Homo sapiens: one gene and its partner. The protein of the gene in region 2 purifies or fractionates together with the protein of the main gene of each other region. This does not show direct contact. Each region holds a gene or a part of one and is shown on either strand. Other genes may lie near its edges.

The links. Proteins that work in one complex are often made in the same cells at the same time.
Region 1: the proteins of MTFMT (region 2) and UNC45B purify together in Homo sapiens (affinity purification with mass spectrometry; one large-scale study listed by BioGRID and IntAct). This does not show direct contact.

What each region holds. Positions count from the first base shown.
Region 1 is NC_000017.11:35,175,104-35,178,832, reverse strand, and holds part of UNC45B (protein unc-45 homolog B), read right to left. Parts: intron 2,866-3,729; coding exon 2,799-2,865; intron 1,817-2,798; coding exon 1,703-1,816; intron 1,339-1,702; coding exon 1,223-1,338; intron 1-1,222. UniProt on the Homo sapiens protein: Acts as a co-chaperone for HSP90 and is required for proper folding of the myosin motor domain. Plays a role in sarcomere formation during muscle cell development. Is necessary for normal early lens development.
Region 2 is NC_000015.10:65,012,640-65,016,139, forward strand, and holds part of MTFMT (methionyl-tRNA formyltransferase, mitochondrial), read right to left. Parts: intron 1-3,500. UniProt on the Homo sapiens protein: Methionyl-tRNA formyltransferase that formylates methionyl-tRNA in mitochondria and is crucial for translation initiation.

The sequences.
Region 1 (3,729 bases), on a different chromosome or scaffold from region 2:
TGACAAACCTGACAAAAACAAGAAATGATGAAAGGATTCCCTATTTAATAAATAGTGCTGGGAAAACTAGCTAGCCATATGTAGAAAGCTGAAACTGGATCCCTTCCTTACACCTTATACAAAAATTAACTCAAGATGGATTAAAGACTTAAATGTAAGATCTAAAACCATAAAAACCCTAGAAGAAAACCTAGGCAATACCATTCAGGACATAGGCATGGGCAAAGACTTCATGACTAAAACACCAAAAGCAATGGCAACAAAAGCCAAAATTGACAAATGGGATCTAATTAAACTAAAGAGCTTCTGCACAGCAAAAGAAACTATCATCAGAATGAACAGGCAACCTACAGAATGGGAGAAAATTTTTGCAATCTACCCATCTGAAAAAGGGCTAATATCCAGAATCTACAAAGAACTTAAACAAATTTACAAGAAAAAAACAACCGCATCAAAAAGTGGGCAAAGGATATGAACAGACACTTCTCAAAAGAAGACATTTATGCAGCCAACAGACACATGAAAAAATGCTCATCATCACTGGTTATCAGAGAAATGCAAATCAAAACCACAATGAGACACCATCTCACGCCAGTTAGAATGGTGATCATTACTACTGTAGAAAGAAGTGCTGGCTGGGTGCGGTGGCTCACACCTGTAATCCAAGCACTTTGGGAGACCAAGGCGGGCAGATCACCTGAGGTCACGAGTTTGAGACCAGCTTGGCCAACATGGGGAAACCCTGTCTCTACTAAAAATACAAAAATTAGCTGGGTATGGTGGCGTACTCCTGTAGTCCCAGCTACTCGAGAGGCTGAGGCTGGAAAATAGCTTCAGCCCTGGAGGCAGAGGGTGCAGTGAGCTGAGATAGTGCCACTGTACTCCAGCCTGGGCGACAGAGCAAGACTCGGTCTTGATAAGAAAAGAAAAGAGAAAAGAAAGAAAAAAAGAAAAGAAAAGAAAGAAAAGAGAAGAGAAGAGAAAAGAAAAGACAAAAGAAAAGAAAAGGAAAGAAAAAAAAGAAAAGAAAAAGAAGGGCCTTGTAGCATTTTTTGGCTTTGGTATAGTCACTGTGTGGTTTGTGGATTTGTGCTAACTCAAATCCCACCCCTTGCCTTTGTGTTGTCTTCAGAGAAGAGCATTCTCAGCACATTATGTGAAATTTCAAACAAACACTTTTTGAGCCACCTCTCTCCACCCCTGCCACACTCACCACACTCACCGGAGTTTGTCACTCCGCCCAGACAGGTTGGTGAGGCCTAGGAGAGCCTCATAGTTCTGAAGCCCATCCCTCTGTGTGTCCAAGAGTCTTACAAGGGGCCGCACCACCTCATACACCTGTTGGGGAGGGGTCAAGGGTTTGGTCAGGTGAGGACTTTGTTCCCTGAGTGCCTCACATTTATAGGTGACCAGCTGTAAAGTTTCCAAAGCACTTTCTCATACATTGTCTGATTTCATCCTCACAATGATCCTGACAGGCAGGATTATTTTCTTTATAGATAGGATAACTGAATTTTGGAGAGGGCAATCCGGTTTGTCAGAGGCAGAACCAGGCCTGGAATCCAGGTGCCTCCATGCATCACCCTCCGTGTGACAGCACCATGCCCCTGTCCCAGGCTCGAGGTAGAATGACAAGGGGAAAGGCCTCTAGGAGCAAAGGAGACCCCTCCCATTGCCCTATCCCATCTACCCAAGCACCTACCCGCTCCCCAGGAAAAGCAATGTCCGGATTGGAGACAGCAGCGATCTTTGCTAGAGCGTGGGCTGCCTTCACCTTGCCCACATCTGTGCCCTCCAAAGCCAGGGGAATCAGGGCCTGCAAGAAAGGGCAAGGTCACTACTTAGTCACAGACATCCAGAGGCTTCTCGCCTATCCTCCTGCTCCAGGTGCTGTCTGTCTGTCCCATGGGAGGTCCAGGAAAATTCTGCCGTATAATCAGCCCTTGCACATCATGGAAAACAATTAAATCCTTAATCACATATTCACTCCTCTTGATTCCCAGTGCACATTCAGGTCTTTACCCCACTTCCTCCCACCCACCTAAATATTCCTTCAGCTTTTGGAAAAATAAATAATTCAATCAACAAATTTTTTACTTTCTGCCCAAGCCAAACTCAATCCTTTTGTTTGTTTGTTTTGTTTTGTTTTTTTGAGACAGAGTTTCGCTCTTGCTGCCCAGGCTGGACTGCAATGGCATGATCTCGGCTCATTGCAACCTCCTCCTCCTGGGTTCAAGCAAGTCTCCTGCCTCAGGTTCCTGAGTAGCTGAGATTACAGGTGCACGCCACCAGGCCCAGCTAATTTTTGTATTTTTAATAGAGACGGAGTTGCAGCCAAACCCAATCTTAACATCAGACATCTATTGAGCACCTACCATGAATCAATACTTTCTATATTTTCTCTAATTCTTGTGACAGTCTGCAAATTGAAAGTGTGATTTTCCCCCTATTTTACAGATGAAGAAGCTGTGGCTGGGAGATTAAGTATTTTGCCTGAGGTTATGCAGTCAGAAATGGGAAGAGCAAGAACTCAACTACAAGTCTTCTACATCAAAGTCCAGGGTCTGTCTTTGCACGGTGCTTCCTTCCAACAGCAAGGAGGATAGATGGGATTCCAAAGTACATACCATCATAGCATAAAGTCAAGCAGAAATTGGCTTGGGGCTATGAGCACAGACAGCGCAGATAACTGGTGGCCGTATTCCAGGAGGTCGAGTTGGGGCAGAGGGTACATAATTCTTGCGCTAGGCAAAGAGCATGCACAAAGGCACCTTCTAGGAAGGCACCTGCCCAGTTACCTTGCCACCACCTTGAGCCACAATGGTGCCTCGGTCCTTTGGGTTGTCACACAGTGCCAGGAATACCCTGTGGGACCGAGAAGAAAGGAGAACAGTTAATACACCAGCACACCTTCCCAGGCAGCAGCAGCAGCAGGCCAGCCAGTCGGAGCCAGTGAAACCCTGGGATGAAAAGGGAGACTATGGAAAGTGCCACTTGTGTGCCTGTGCCCCAGAATTAACCACTTTGGGAAGATGACATCATGGGAATAATTGGCTGGGAAGGAAGTGAGGCCAAGTGAGGCTGCAAAGAGCACTCCCCACTATCACTATTTAGGGATGCAACCACCCAGGAGAAGCTTTTCAACTTCAATGGATGTGCCCCAGGTCCTCCGTGATCTGGCTCTGGCTTCCTCTTTTGTCTCATCCAGCACCAGCTCTTCCTATGGATTCCCTGCCCCAGACATATTGCAGGAGAACCCCAAATTCACTCATTCTCTCTCCATCCTCAGTGTCTTTGCAGATGCTATTCTCTCTGCCTGGAACCTTCCCTCTCCTGCATTTAGGTGGCTCCTTTGCTTCCTTCAGAGCTTGAGTTGTCACATCCCCCAGGAGGCCTTACCAGCTGCCCACCCACCTCCCCTCCAGTCTGGCTGGTTGGGGAACACTGCTTGTGCTCCAATCAGCCCTTTATGCTTCCCACATCATGGCATCCATTGCATCGGACTGTAGCTGTGATCTTGCCTGCCTCCCTGGCCAGGCTGCACACAGACTGTGCCTTTAATCTCTGAGAACAAGGTAACAAGAAGGAACAGTGGCCTCCTTTCTCCTGATACAAACTTCCACCTGTGATGACCTGCCCAACATACCACTTCTCTTCCTTCCTTTCCTTCTTTCCCTCTTTCTTTCCTTCTCCTTCCTTCCTTCCTTTCCTTTCCCTTTCTTTCTTTTC
Region 2 (3,500 bases):
TCCACCTGCCTCAGCCTCCCAAAGTGCTGGGACTACAGGCATAAGCCATCATGCCTGGCTTATTTCTAGACCCTTAATTCGATTCTAATGAGCTATAGCCAGTACCACACTATCTTGGTTACTGTAGTTTTACAGCAAGTTTTGAAACTGAAAACTATGAGTCCTCCAATTTTGTTAGTTTTGGCTATTCTGGGCCCCTTGCAATTCTGTATACATTTTAGGAGCAGCTTGTCAATTTGTACAAAGAAGCCAATTGGGATTTTTTTTTTAGGAATTGTGTTGAATCTGTACATCAACTTGGGGAGTAGAGACATCTTAACAATACTAAGTTTATCCAATCAATGAATACTGGGGTCTTTCCATTTACTTGGGTCTTCTTTACTGTTTATTAGCTCTAATAGTTTTTTTTGGAACTTCTTCATGATTTTCTATATGCTAGATCATATCATCCACAAATAGAGACAGCTTTACTTCTTCCTTTCCAAACTTTTGTTTGGTTGCCTTTTGTTTCTTTTTTCTTGTCTAACTGCCCCAACAGAACAAAGTTGAATAGAAGACATTTAACTTTGAGAGCGCAGACATCTTTATCTTCTTTGTGATCTTAAGGGAAAGGCTTTGTCTTTCTTTTATTTTCTTTCTTTCTTCTTCTTTTTTTTTTAAGAGACAAAGTCTGGCTATATTGTCCAGGCTGGTCTCGAACTCCTGGCCTCAAGCAATCCTCCCGCTCAGCCTCCAAAATACCTGGGACTACAAGTGTCCACCACTGCACTTGGCTTCTTTCATTAAGTATGATGTTAGTTACAGGGTCTTCATAGATGTCCTTTATCAAGTTGAGGAAATGCTCTTCTATTTCTAGTTTATTGAGGTTTTTTTACATGTGTTGGATTTTGTCAAATGCTTTTTCTGCATCTATTGAGACAGTGATGTAGCTTTTGTCCTTTATTCTACTAATATGATATGTTACATTGACTGATTTTCATATGTTGAACCAACCTTGCATTCCTGGGATAAATCCCACTTGGGGCAGGGTGTGATGGCTCACACCTGTAATGCCAGCATGTTGGGAGGCTGAGGTGGGCGGATCACTCAAGTTCAGGAGTTTGAGATCAGCCTGGCCAACATGGTGAAACCCCATCTCTACTAAAAATACAAAAAAATGAGCTGAGCATGGTGCTGCATGCCTGTAATCCCAGCTACTCAGGAGGCTGAGGTAGAATTGCTAGAGCCCAGAAGGCGGAGGTTGCAGTGAGCTGAAACTGCACAGTTGCGCTCCAGCCTAGGCGACAGGGCGAGACACCATCTCAAAAAAAAAAAACAAAAAACAAAAAACAAAACCCAAAAAACAATCCCACTTAGTCATCATGTATAATCCTTTTTTATATGTTGCTGGATTCAGTTTGCTAACTCTGTGGAGGACTTGTGCATCTATATTCAGGGATATCAGTCTGGAGTTTCCTTTTCTTGTGATTCTTTGGGTTAGCCCACCTTGGGTTTTGTACTAGCTGTTCCTCTGCCTGGAATGCTCTTCTCTGTTCTAGGCATGGCTGGCTCCTTATTGTCTTTCAGATTTCAGCTTAAGTGTCAGAAAGAGGCTTTCCCCATCACCGATCTAAAATAACCTCCAGTTATTCTATCACATGATCCTATTTTTATTTTCATCAAGGAATTTATCACACTATTTGATTTTTTTTTTTTTTTTTTTGAGATGGAGTTTCGCTCTTGTTGCCCAGGCTGGTGTGCAATGTGCAATCTCGGCTCATCATAACCTCCACCTCCTGGGTTCAAGCAATTCTCCTGCCTCAGCCTCCCAAGTAGCTAGGATTACAGGCATGCGCCACTAGGTCTGGCTAATTTTTTTGTATTTTTAGTAGAGACGGGGTTTCTCCATGTTGGTCAGGCTGGTCTCGAACTCCTGACCTCAGGTGATCCGCCCGCCTCGGCCTCCCAAAGTGCTGAGATAACAGGCGTGAGCCACCATGCCCGGTCTTTTTTTTTTTTTTTCTTTTGAGACAGAGTCTTGCTCTGTCGCCCAGGCTGGAGTGCAGTGGTGTGATCTTGGCTCACTGCAACCTCTGTCTCCTAGGTTCAAGCAATTTTCTTGCCTCAGCCTTTCTAGTAGCTGGGATTACAGGCGCATGCCACCACGCCCAGCTAATTTTTTTGTGTGTTTTTAGTAGAGACAGGGTTTCACTATGTTGGCCAGGCTGGTCTCAAACTCCTGACCTCAGGTGATGCATCTGCCTCAGCCTCCCAAAGTGCTGGGATTACACGTGTGAGCCACCATGCCTGGCCTGATTTTTTTTTTTTTTTTTTGCTTACTTGTTGTCTGTCCTCCCACAACACCTGTTTCTATAGTACCTAGTACACTGCTTGACACATAATAGGCCTTCAATAAATATTTTGTTTAATGAATGAATGAATAATAGCAGCTATCATTTAATGAGTACCTATTCTGTGCCAGATACTGTACAAGATGCTGTAAATATATTATACCAGCCCTGATATTCCAAGGAACAAACTAAAGCTCGGAGGTTAAATAACTTTCCTGAGTCTACGACGTTAGGAAGTAGCAGAGTCAAGATGGAACCCAGCACTGTCTGGCCCTATGGTCCTTGTTTCCTGATGCCATTCTGTGGCAGCAGGAAAATAATAGGATTTGAAGTAAGATAGATCTCGTTCAAAACCTGACTCTGACTTTCATTAACTAGCAACACGACATCGAGTAACACTTAATAACAATTCATTATCTACTTTAAGCCTCAATTTCTTCAACTTTAAAGTGGGATGATAATAACTATAACATGAGTCTGTGATCCTCCTTACTGAAGAATTTAGCATGCTATAGATATCCAATGGTGGTTCCCCATTTTACCCAACATTAATAACAGAGATGGTCCATTAAAAACCACACACTTGGCCAGGCACAGTGGCTCGTGCCTGTAATCCCAGCACTTTGGGAGGCTGAGAAGAGCGGATCACTTGAGCTCAGCAGTTCAAGACCAGCCTGGGCAACATGGCAAAACCTCGTCTCTACAAAAAAATACAAAAATTAGCCAGGTGTGGTGGTGTGTGCCTGTGGTTGCAGCTACTCAGGGGCTGTCACAGGAGGCTCACTTGAGCCTGGGAGGCAGAGGTTGCAGTGAGCCAAGGTTTCTCCACTGTACTCCAGGCCTGGGTGACAGAGCTAGACCCCGTCTCAAAAAATAAAACAACACACACACACAAACACACATACGGTAAGCTCAGTGTTCAAATAACACAAGTAGCTATTGAAATGAAAGGAAAAAACCCCACAAATTTATCAATGAACTGAGAATTTAACTCAGACATTTTAACAAACTGTTATATTACTACACTTGGTGTACCATATGTAGAAATCAATGATTTAACAATTTGATTGTAAAAAATTGGCTAAAGGCAGAAAGACATACTGGAAGAAGCACAGGATTAGGAGTGAGAAGATTTAAGTTCATTATTTAGTGACTGGACATTCCTGTTAG